3 linked regions of the Homo sapiens genome follow. The protein of the gene in region 2 purifies or fractionates together with the protein of the main gene of each other region. This does not show direct contact. Each region holds a gene or a part of one and is shown on either strand. Other genes may lie near its edges. The genes, in order: CAP1, IL4I1 and GLG1.

Region 1 (3,646 bases), on a different chromosome or scaffold from region 2:
AATACAAGGCAAACAAAGCAGCACTGTAGCTGAGGCATATTTTTAGAACTTTGTTTTTATCAGGTTAACATATAGTACATCAAGAAATAATTTCATGGTGAATGCTGTAGCTGCATTAATTTAAAATTATGAAACTACAGTCATGCATTACATAATGACATTTTGGTCAATGGATGGACCACAAAATCAACAGTGGTCCCATAAGATTATATGGGATTATATGGGGATTAATCAACACAAAATCCCATAAGATTATAATACCCTATTTTTACTGTACTTTAAAAATGTGGCCGGGCGCGATGGCTCATGCCTGTAATCCCAGCACTTTGGGAGGCCAAGGCTAGCAGAACACAAGGTCAGGAGTTTGAGACCAGCCTGGCCAATATAGTTAAACCCCATCTCTACTAAAAATACAAAAATTAGCTGGGCGTGGTGGTGCGCACCTGTAGTACCAGCTACTCAGGAGGCTGAGGCAGAAGAATTGCTTGAACCCAGGAGGCGGGGGTTGCAGTGAGCCAAGATCGTGCCACTGCACTCCAGCCTGGGCGACAGAGTGAGACTCCGTCTCAAAAAAAAAAAAAAAAAGTTTAAATAAACAAATACTTACACTGTGTTACAAACTGCCTACAGTATTAGATACAGTAACATACTATACAGGTTTGTAGCCCAGGAGTAATAAGTTACACCATGTGCAGTATCATCTAAATTTGTGCAAGTACACTCTATGATGTTCCCACAATGATGAAATCACCTAATGACAAATTTCTCAGAATGTACCTGTCATTAAGCAACACATGACTGTATAATTTTATCAACTAAAATAAATGTGAATAACTCCATAAACTATATGCAACTTTAGTGTTTGTTTGTTTTTTTTTGTTTTGTTTTGTTTTTTTGAGACGGAGTCTTGCTCTGTCACCCAAGCTGGCGCAGATCATGCAGTGGCACGATCTTAGCTCACTGCAACCTCCACCTCCCCGGGTTCAAGTGATTCTCCTGCCTCAGCCTCCCTAGTAGTTGGGATTACGGTACATGCCACCACACCCAGCAAATTTTTGTAATTTTAGTAGGGACGGGGTTTTACCATGTTGGCCAGGCTGGTCTCGAACTCCTGACCTCAGGTGATCCACCCGCCTTGGCCTCCCAAAATGCTGGGATTACAGGCGTGAATCACCACGCCCAGCCTATATGCAACTTTAAAATAAATGATAGTCCCTGTCCACTAAAACCAAGCACTCTAAATACAAGGAACACAAACAAAACAGGAATTCACACAATTTTCAATAGAGAGGGAAATCTGCTGACTTACACCATCAACAAGAAGCTTGCTTCTAGTACTCAAACCAATGGCACTTCTCTTAAGATCACATCTGCCAGGTGTGGTGGCTCATGCCTGTAATCCCAGTGACTCAGGAGACTGAGGCCAGAGAATCACCTGAGGCCAGGGGTTTAAGACCAGCCCAGGCAACATAGCAAGACCCTGTCTCTGAAAAAAATCAAACATTTGGCCGAGCGCATGGTGGCTCATGCCTGTAATCCCAGCACTTTGAGAGGCTGAGGTGGGTGGTTCCCTTGAGGAGTTCGAGACCAGCCTGGCCAACATGGCAAAACCCTGTCCCTACTAAAAATACAAAAATTAGCTGAGTGTGGTGGTGTGTGCCTCTAGTCCCAGCTACTCAGGAGGCTGAGGCAGGAGAACTGCTTGAACCCGGGAGGGGGAGGTTGCAGTGAGCCAAGATCACGCCACTGCACTCCAGCCTGGGCGACCGAGCAAAACTCCATCTCAAAAAAACAAAAAACAAAAGAAAGAAAAAGAACTGTAGTCCCAGCTACTCAGGAGGCTGAAGCGAGAAGATTACTTGAGCCCAAAAGTTGGAGGTTGCAATCAGCCATGATTGCACCATTGTACTCCAACCTGCCCACCCAGAAATTCCTTGAAGGAACAGTAATTTCTTGAAGCTTCAACAGAAACAAATGATTCATTCATTGTAGGATACTGAGTGCTTATCATGTACCATCGACTGTGCTAAGTATGGCTATGGGGCCTGCCCTCACAGAATTTAGTTGGGGACATTGTACAATCATAGCTACGATACTTTCTAACGCAGCAATTCTCAACCAGGGGCAATTTTGTCCTCCAGGAGACATATGGCAATGTCTGAAGACATTTTTGGTTGTCACAACTGAGGAAGTCTTATTGGCATCTACTGGGTAGAGACAGATGCTGCTTAACATCCCACAGTGCACAGGACAACTCCATAATAAAGAATTATATGGCCAGGCGCGGTGGCTCACACCTGTAATCCCAGCACCTTGGGAGGCCGAGGCGAGCAGATCACGAGATCAGGAGATCAAGACCACAGTGAAACCCCGTCTATACTAAAAATACAAAAAATTAGCTGGGCCTGGTGGCGGGCGCCTGTAGTCCCAGCTACTCGGGAGGCTGAAGCAGGTGAATGGCGTGAACCCGGGAGGCTGAGCTTGCAGTGAGCCGAGATTGTGCCACTGCACTCCAGCCTGGGTGACAGATAGAGACTCTGTCTCAAAAAAAAAAAAAAAAAAAAAAAAAAGAATTATATGGCCCAAAATGTCAATTGTGCCAACGTTGAGAAACCCTGTTCTAATTTAATAAGGAGCATAGGGAGGTGCAAAAGGTTAAGTAAAATGCTAGTTCACGACTTTCTAAATTAGAAAGTCAACCTGTATCATCTAATAAAAATTAAGATAAGGGTCTAAACTGTAGAGAATTCTGTAAGATGGAAAAAAGAGTTCAGAATTTATTCTTTGTAAATATGAAGTCAGTGAAGACTAACAAGATGAAAAATGCTTCTTCTTAGAGAACTTTAAAAAGATTTGTCTGGTTGTCATAGAGAAACTGAAGTATAGGTCATGAAAGCCAGGTTAGCACAAATAAAGAAAGAAACTGATGTCAACATTTCAAAGTAATAATCACTAAAATTGGGTAAGATACCGCTCGAGAACTCTCATATTTCAAATCTCAGCATTAAATTTCAAACCAGAGGTTCGGCTTCCAGTGACACATTGCATTTGCTTAAGTAAAAAAAAATTTGATTCACAATGCTTCACAAAAAACTGAAAGGAGGAAGTCACCTTTTTTTTTTCTGGTAGAGACAGGGGTCTCACTATGTTGACCAGGCTAGTCTCTAACTCAGCCTCAAGAAAGTCACTTTTTAAAAGCTAAAAAAATAACTGCAACCAGGAAAAAGGGTGAGAATAAAAGATCATCCCTAGGTTGGAAACAAAACATTTTACAGACTCAATAGCTAAACTCCAAAGCAAAAATATACTCACTGAATCTTAACAATATCACCACTTTTGGTTTGCACATCAGGCTGTATTCTACAAAGTACTTTTGCTGCTACCATTTTATTTAAACTTCTCTGAGATATCAATTATGCCTACCCAATTGAGGAAGTATTTCTGGAAAAAGCGAGAAATTTCTTTTTTCTTTTCTTTTTTTTTTGAGACAGAGTCTCACTATCACCCAGGCTGGAGTGCAGCAGTGCAATCTCAGCTCACTGCAACCTCCGCCTCCCGGGTTCAAGCGAGTCTCCTGCCTCAGCCTCCCAAGTAGCTGGGACTACAGGCATGCACAACCACGCCCAGCTAATTTTTGTATTTTTAG
Region 2 (4,443 bases):
TCGGATTTCAGTGAGTAGGTCAGTGGTTAGACCTCATGGCACACATCCCCTTGGTAGAATTTCCATCTCCACCAACAGGCGCCCCACCCCATGGAGGGGACTGAAGGGATGCCAGAGAGAAGAAAAGCCGGGCCGGGGCGAGCTTAGGAGGAGGACAGAGAAGTCAGGGCGGGAGGAGGGTGCAGGCGGTACCCACCTGGTTGAGAGCCATCTGGTAGATGTCTTCGGGCGAGTGGCCCTTTTCCTGGGGACGCAAGGCGTAGCCCAGCTTCTCGGGCACCTTCTCCACCACATAGTTGCGCAGCTTCACTTCGTGCACCTCCGTCCACGTGTTCTTGTCGTACTGGGTGAACTTGGTCAGGTTGAGCCCCAGGCCCTGGCAGAGCTTGTGGAGGATCCTGATCAGGGGAGTGGGTGAGTGAGGGCCGGGCTCCAGTGGGGGTGGCCTGGTCCCTAGTGGGACTTGGAGAAGAGGGGTGGGAGGGGAGAGTAGCTGGGGACCAGCATGAGGCTGGGGGTGGGGCTAGATTTGGGGTAATCAATGCTGGGGGATGGGAATGAAATGGGGACAAGGCTGGAGGCCTCAGGGCAGTACCAGGATTAGGATTGGGTTAAGAGTGGGATAGAGCCCAGATTAGAATTGGGAAGGGGGACAGAGTTTGGGTTGGACGGGGGTTTGAGATGAAGAAGGGGCCTGGGGCTGGGGTGCCTGAGGGTGTGGGGATGGTGGAGCTGCAGGCCTGGAGGGGCCAGCACAGGAGCTGGCTTTTGCACCAGGCAGGGCCAGCTGGAGGTCTGGTTGGACCAGGTGGCCCGAGTGTTGCCAGAGGCCCAGGGCTGGCGCTGGAGGCAAGACTGAGGTGAGGATTAGGCGAAGGATGGGGTTGGAGGCTGGGTTTGGGAGTCAGAGTGGAAGTTCGGGCCCACTCTGGTGTGGGCATGGAGCTGGGGGGCTAGTTGAGTCTAGGCACACAGGTGGGTGGGTTGCTAGGTCACCTGTGAGAGCTGGGCATGCGCATGGCTCCCAGCTCCCCAATCCAGCCCGTGTTCTGGTCCCGGTAGGTGAAGATGCGGCCCCCGATCCTGTTATCTGCCTCCAGGATGGTGACCTGAGGGAGTCCGTGGGGCGAGGAGGGCCCTTCAGCTCCACCCACTGACCATCCCCTGCCCTCTACCACCCCGTGCCAGCCCCCTGCCTTCTTCCATCCCCACAGTGGCCCAGACCCAGACTAGGAGAGGGTCCCCTTCTGTATGGAGGTGGGGGAACAGAACTGAGTGAGCAGTTCCAGACTGCAGGAGGAAGGCTGCCAGCTAGACTGCAAAGGGACTTCCCAGCTCGGGGAGTTCGGAGATGACCCATATGCGTAGAAGCCCCTGGGCTGGCCCATTCTCATTCTCGGATTGCAGTGAGTAGGTCAGTGGTTAGACCTCAGGGCACACATCCCCTTGGTAGAGTTTCCCTCTCCACCAACAGGCGCCCCACCCCAGGACAGAGGAGCTTTGAGCCAGTGAGACTTCCCTCTGGGATGAAAAACGTGGGACAGGAAAGTCTGGGGCCTCTCAGTGGAGACATGTGACAGCAGGGGGCTTGGGCCTCACCCCCAGACTACAGGGAAAGATAGCCTCTCCCCCCACATCCCCACCTCCACCCCCTCAAGGAGGAACGCGGCCGTGTCCCTGTGCCCAGGGACTCCAGCCTGCAGCAGGAGGGACTCCAGGTAGACTGCAAGCAGTGCTTCCCACCTTGTGTCCAGCATCGCTGAGCACCTTGGCGGCCACCAGCCCGGCCACACCAGCGCCAACCACAATCACCCTCTGGGGCTTCAGGGTCCGATTGAGCCCCCAGGTCACCACCTTGAGCAGCTGCTCATAGTCAGGATCCTGCATGCATTTCTCGAAGGGGTCTTGGCTGCGTTCAGCCTTCCAGTCCTGGGAGGCCACCAGGCTGAGGAGGATGGGGACGAGGACGAGGAGGTGCAGGGCTGGGAGGAGGAGGACAGGGTCAACGGGGTTGTGGCAGGTCGGGGGAGAGGGGTTCTACTCACTTGTTCCAGAGCCCCTCCCCTGCTTACTCACCCAATGGGGCCATGACTCTCGGTGGGAGATGGTGTCTGGGGTGGAGGAGAAGGGAGGGCTGTTGTGACTGAGGCCTGTGACCACTGTAGCCTGACTCTGTCTCCCATGGGCTGCCCAGCTGCTAGAGCCGGCCCTCCCCCAGTCACTGTCCTGCTCTCTGGACCTGTGTCCCCTAACCCCATTCCTTCAGAGTCCCCTGGACCGTCCCTGCCTCCCTCCTCACCGGTCTCCACCTCTGCCACAGCTCTCTCGGGTTCCTGTCTCTTTCTCTTCTTTTCCCTCTTTCTTTCCTTTCTTTCTTTTTTTTTTAACAGTCTTTCTCTGCCATCCAGGCTGGAGTGCAGTGGTAAGATCTTGGCTCACTGCAACCTCCGCCTCCCAGGTTCAAGAATCCTCCCACTTCAGCCTCCCAAGTAACTGGGATTACAGACACCCATAACCAAACCTGGCTAATTTTTGTATTTTTAGTAGAGACGGGGTTTCGCCATGTTGGCCAGGCTGGTCTCGAACTCCTGACCTTAGGTGATCCACCCACCTCGGCCTCCCAAAGTGCTGGGATTCCAGGCATGAGCCCCCGCGCCCGGCCTCTTTTCCCTCTTCCTCATCTCCCCAGCTCCTGACTGCTTCTCAGTCCCTATTTCTGTGGGTCCTGTCTCTCTGTCCCCCCACCACTGGCCGTGTCACTACCTCCAGCTCTTGGTGACAGCAGGACAGCGCGGTCCTCTCCACTGCCCTCCACTGTCTCTGCTGTGGCCCTTTCTCTCCCCTTAAACTGGCAGAGCCCCGCCCACCCCTCCTTTTGGGAAACTGGCCGAGGGAAATGAAACTGGTTTCCTGGAGCTGCTCTGGTCCAATGCTCAGAGTCTAGTTGAGGTTGGAGAAAGGGGGTTGGAGGAAGTTAATCAGTCTATTCACTTCCTTTTGCCCCAGATAGTTCTGGGGTGGTTTGGAGGCCAGAAATAGATGCTCAGGTAACCGTGCCAACAACGGGGAATCCCCTTCGGTTTGCCCCCGTCCCTGATCACCAGGCCACTTGTTTCTATCCTCCCCTGCACTCTCTCTGCCTCCTTGATTCCCACGGGGACAGAGGGGCTACAGGTCCCTGGGCCAGGCCAACTTTCCCCTCCAAGTCCCTCTCCGTCAGGTGTCGCCATGTCCTGCAGGGCCCCCCATGGTTCCACTTCCCTCTCCACTTGCCACCCAGAGCCTCAGTCTCCCCCTCCGTTACATGGGTGTAGCAGTGGGGCTGGCAGCCGTGGTCCCGGGGTCAGGACGTGGGCTCTGAGCCCGCCCTCCCCTCTGTGGCTCTCGTCTACAGCTGTCAAATGACGTCTACAGACGTCACAGTGTTTTAGGATCAAGTGAGTGAATCCAGGTTAAGTTCTGTGGCCGGAACCTGGGGTAGTACTGGAAGCTGCTCCTTTGGAAATGCCAGCTGCTGTGGCCGCAGGGGCACTCAGGGGTTCTATGAGTGACCACCCGGCAGAGGGAAGCGCCCAGGCTTCACCCATCCCTGCTTTAAGAACCACCTCAGTGCTCAGGGCAGGGAGTGGGGCGGCACCTTGGAGTGGGTGGGGGTGGAGAAACAATAGCAGGGACTTTCCTTGGGGTGGGGGAGAGGGAGCCAGGGGCTCCGTGAGGAGGAAAACCAGAGGGAGGCAGATTCTCTGCAGCAAGGGTTGGGTGGGGGTTGGAGGGCATTAACAAGAAGGAAGATGGGAAACTCCCGCAGTAAATCAAAGAGGGATGCGGTTATGGCCGGGAGGGGCTGGGGGGTGAATGTGAGTAACAAGGCATGTGACGCAGGGGCGGGAGGCCGTGGCAAAGGGAAATGATCAAAGAGCTGGAGAGTTCAGGGACCGAAAGAGCTTGGGTCAGCAAAAATAGTGACGAGGGCCAGGGGTGGCTCACGCCTATAATCCCAGCACTTTGGGAGGTCGAGGCAGGCGGATCACCTGATGTCAGGAGTTCAAGACCAGCCTGGCCAACATGGCAAAACCTCGTCTCTACTAAAAATATAAAAATTAGCCGGGCATGGTGGCATACGCCTGTAGTCCCAACTACTCAGGAGGCTGGGACAGGAGAATTGCTTGAACCCAAGAGGTGGAGGTTGCAGTGAGCTGAGATCGTGCCACTGCACTCTAGCCTGGGTGACAGAGCCAGACTCCATCTCAAAAAATAAAAAATAAAAATAAAAAATAGTAATGAGGGCCGGGTGCGGAGGCTCACTGCTGTAATCCTAGCACTTTGGGAGGCCGAGGTGGGAGGATTGCTTGAGCCCAGGGGCTCGAGACCAGCCTGGCCAAGATGGCGAAACCCTTTCTCTAAAAAAGAAAAAAATAGTGACAAAAATGTTCCCATGGCGAT
Region 3 (3,646 bases), on a different chromosome or scaffold from region 2:
GGCAGAGGCTGCAGTGAATCATGATCATGCCACTGCACTGCAGCCTGGGCAAGAGAGTGAGACCTCGTCTCAAACAAACAAAAAAAAAACCCAAAACAAAACTCACCAGGCACAGTGGCTCACGCCTGTAATCCCAGCACTTTGGGAGGCCGAGGCGGGAGGATCACCAGGTCAAGAGATCAAGACCAGCATGTCCAACATGGCGAAACCCCGTCTCTAGTAAAAATACAAAAATTACCTGGGCGTGGTGGGGTGCGCCTATAGTCCCAGCTACTCAGGAGGCTGAGGCAGGAGAATCGCTTGAACCAGGGAGGCTGAGGTTGCAGTGAGCTGACATCATGCCACTGCCCTCCAGCCTGGATGACAGAGTGAGACTCCATCTCAAAAAAAAAAAAAAAGAAAGAAAAAAGAAAAAAAAAGCTCCGGTGATAGATGGTGGTGCAAGCAGATCACCTGAGGTCAGGAGTTCAAGACCAGCATAGCCAACATGGCGAAATCCTGCCTCTACTAAAAAAACAAAAATTAGCCGGGCGCAGTGGCTCACGCCTGTAATCCCAACACTTTGGGAGGCCGAAGCTGGCGGATAACGAGGTCAGGAGATTGAGACCATCCTGACTAACACAGTGAAATCCCATCTCTACTAAAAAATACAAAAAATTAGCCGGGCATGGTGGCGGGCGCCTGTAGTCCCAGCTACTCGGGAGGCTGAAGCAGGAGAATGGCGTGAACCCGGGAGGTGGAGCTTGCAGTGAGCTGAGATCGCACCACTGCACTCCAGCCTGGGTGACAAAGTGAGACTGCCTCAAAAAAAAAAAAAAAAAAGCTGGACATGGTGGTGTGTACCTGTAGTCCTAGCTACTCATGAGGCTGAGGCAGGAGAATCGCTTGAACCCGGGAGCCAGAGATTACAGTGAGCTGAGATCACACCACTGCACTCCAGCCTGGGCGTCAAGAGCAAGACTCTGTCTCGAAAACAAAATCAAACAAACAAAATCAATAAGAATGATAATAATAAAACATCTCTCATAAGATTAAATGAGATAACGCCTAGAAAGCATCCAGTCCCTCAGAACAGGGCACACAGAAAACCCTCAGTAAATGCTAACCATTATAAGTAGCAGTAGTATACTTGAACACTGAGCAGTGTCTTGCACACAGGTTTCAATAAATGTTTGCTGAAAGAAGAAAAATTGGTCGGGCGCGGTGGCTCACGCCTGTAATCCCAGCACTTTGGGAGGCCAAGGCGGGCGGATCACGAGGTCAAGAGATCAAGACCATCCTGGCCAACATGGTGAAACCCCGTCTCTACTAAAAATACAAAAAATTAGCCGGGCGTGGTGGCGGGCGCCTGTAGTCCCAGCTACTCGGGAGGCTGAGGAAGGAGAATCACTTGAACCCAGGAGGTGGAGGTTGCAGTGAGCCGAGATCGCGCCACTGCACTCTAGCTTGGTGACAGAATGAGACTCCATCTCAAAAAAAAAAAGAAAAAAGAAAGAAGAAAAATTAATTTACATGATAGCCTATAAGCCATTTTAACTGCTGCTTTTAAAAATATATAAATAAGGCCGGGCGCGGTGGCTCACGTCTGTAATCCCAACACTTTGGGAGACTGAGGTGGGTGGATTGCCTGAGGTCAGGAGTTTGAGACCACCCTGGTCAACATGGTGAAACCTCGTCTCTACAAAAATTAGCCGGGTGTGCTGGCAAGTGCCTATAATCCCAGCTACTCGGGAGGCTGAGGCAGGAGAATGGCTTGAACCCGAGAGGTGGAGGTTGCAGTGAGTCGAGATCATTCCACTTCACTCCAGCCTGAGCAAGAGCGAAACTCCACCTCAAAACAACAACAACAAATATATAAATATATATATATATAACTTATATAAAGAGGAGATTTTTGTTATTGTTCCTGAGTAAATTTGTTTTGAACACATTAGGAGAAATGCACAAAAGAGAAATACAGCATTTCATCTTTTGGACTGTTCAAGTATTTTATTTCCTTCTACAGAACAATGAATTATTAAGCAACTATATACTGTAAAGCATTCTCATCAAGAGATTTCTTAAAAAGTATTTGCCATAAACGACAATGCTACTTTACAGGTAATTCTCAATTATCTGCTGTAATATTTTTATCTGAGGTAGGGATAAAAACATCCCATTTCTGGACTTTACTTGGAGAACCAGCTAGAGGTGAATATACGACCCTTCATGACCTGGACTGAAAACATTTTCAAGTTCTCTATTTCGGTCAATACAGCCCCTTTAATAATTCCCCAAAGCATCTCCCCTTTCCACCTGTGCTACGACTCTCTTGCACACGTTTTGTATTCCCACAGATCACAAAATCACAAAGCACCGGAGCTGGAAGAATCTTAAGAGATAATCCAAGGCCAGGAGCGGTGGCTCACGCCTGTAATCCCACCACTTTGGGAGGCCAAGGCGGGTGGGATTACCTGAGGTCAGGAGTTCAAGACCAGCCTGGCCAACATGGTGAAAACCCGTCTCTACTAAAAATACAAAAATTAGCCAAGCCTCGGCCGGACACAGTGGCTCACGCCTGTCATCTCAGCACTTTCGGAGGCCGAGGTGGGCAGATCACGAGGTCAGGAGATCGAGACCATCCTGGCCAACATGGTGAAACCCCGTCTCTACTAAAAATGCAAAAAATTAGCCGGGCATGGTGGTGGGCGCCTGTAGTCCCAGCTACTCGGGAGGCTGAGGCAGGAGAATGGCGTGAACCCGGGAGGTAGAGCTTGCAGTGAGCCGAGATCGCGCCACTGCACTCCAGCCTGGGTGACAGAGCTAGACTCTGTCTCAAAAAAAAAACAAAAAAAAAATTAGCCAGGCATGGTGGCTGGTGCCTGTAATCCCTGCTACTAGAGAGGTGGAGCCAGGAGAATCGCTTGAATACAGGAGACAAAGGTTGCAGTGAGGTGAGATCGCGCCACTGCACTCCAGCCTGGGTGACAGTGCGAGACTCCGTCTTAACCAAAAGCAAAACAAAACAAAAAAACAACAGAGAAAGATAATCCAGTGTTAGTGCTTTCTGAAGCATGTGCTATTGGTAATATGCAAGATGATTTCAGGTGGTATGTGTTGGTACTTATATTTTATAGTCATATATTTAGTTTCATATATATTAGAGAAGTATACCTACCACATCAAATTCATGAGTTCACGTATATTTCCGCTTAGAACAAGGCTAAGTGGTGTTGTGTACCTATAGTCCCAGCTACTCGGGAGGCTGAAGTGGGAGGAGAGCTTGAGCCCAGGAGTTTGAGGTTGCAGTGAGCCATGATCATGCCACTGCACTCCAGCCAGCCTGGGAGATAGAGTAAGACTTTCAAAGAAAAAAAAGAACAAGGACAAAGCTAAAGTAGACAGTCCTTGCTTAAGAAAAGAGGCCGGGTGCACTGGTTTACACCTGTAATCCTAGCACTTTGGGAGGCCAAGACAGGCAGATCACTTGAGGTCAGAGGTTCAAGACCAGCCTGGCCAGTGTGGCGAAACCCCCGTTTTACTAAAAATACAAAAATTAGCCGGGTGTGGTAGCGCATGTCTGCAGTCCCAGCTACTCGGGAGGCTGAGGCAGAAAAATCACTTGAACCCAGGAGGCAGAGGTTGCAGTGAGCCAAGAATACGCCAT

What was found.
Region 1: the proteins of IL4I1 (region 2) and CAP1 purify together in Homo sapiens (affinity purification with mass spectrometry, with the first as the bait; one large-scale study listed by BioGRID). This does not show direct contact.
Region 3: the proteins of IL4I1 (region 2) and GLG1 purify together in Homo sapiens (affinity purification with mass spectrometry, with the first as the bait; one large-scale study listed by BioGRID). This does not show direct contact.

The regions. Positions count from the first base shown.
Region 1 is NC_000001.11:40,043,713-40,047,358, reverse strand, and holds part of CAP1 (adenylyl cyclase-associated protein 1), read right to left. Parts: intron 1-3,646. UniProt on the Homo sapiens protein: Directly regulates filament dynamics and has been implicated in a number of complex developmental and morphological processes, including mRNA localization and the establishment of cell polarity.
Region 2 is NC_000019.10:49,894,072-49,898,514, forward strand, and holds the start of IL4I1 (L-amino-acid oxidase isoform 1 precursor), read right to left. Parts: upstream 2,817-4,443; 5' UTR 2,764-2,816; intron 2,112-2,763; 5' UTR 2,090-2,111; coding exon 2,077-2,089; intron 1,983-2,076; coding exon 1,744-1,982; intron 1,110-1,743; coding exon 997-1,109; intron 399-996; coding exon 197-398; intron 1-196.
Region 3 is NC_000016.10:74,597,048-74,600,693, forward strand, and holds part of GLG1 (Golgi apparatus protein 1 isoform 3 precursor), read right to left. Parts: intron 1-3,646. UniProt on the Homo sapiens protein: Binds fibroblast growth factor and E-selectin (cell-adhesion lectin on endothelial cells mediating the binding of neutrophils).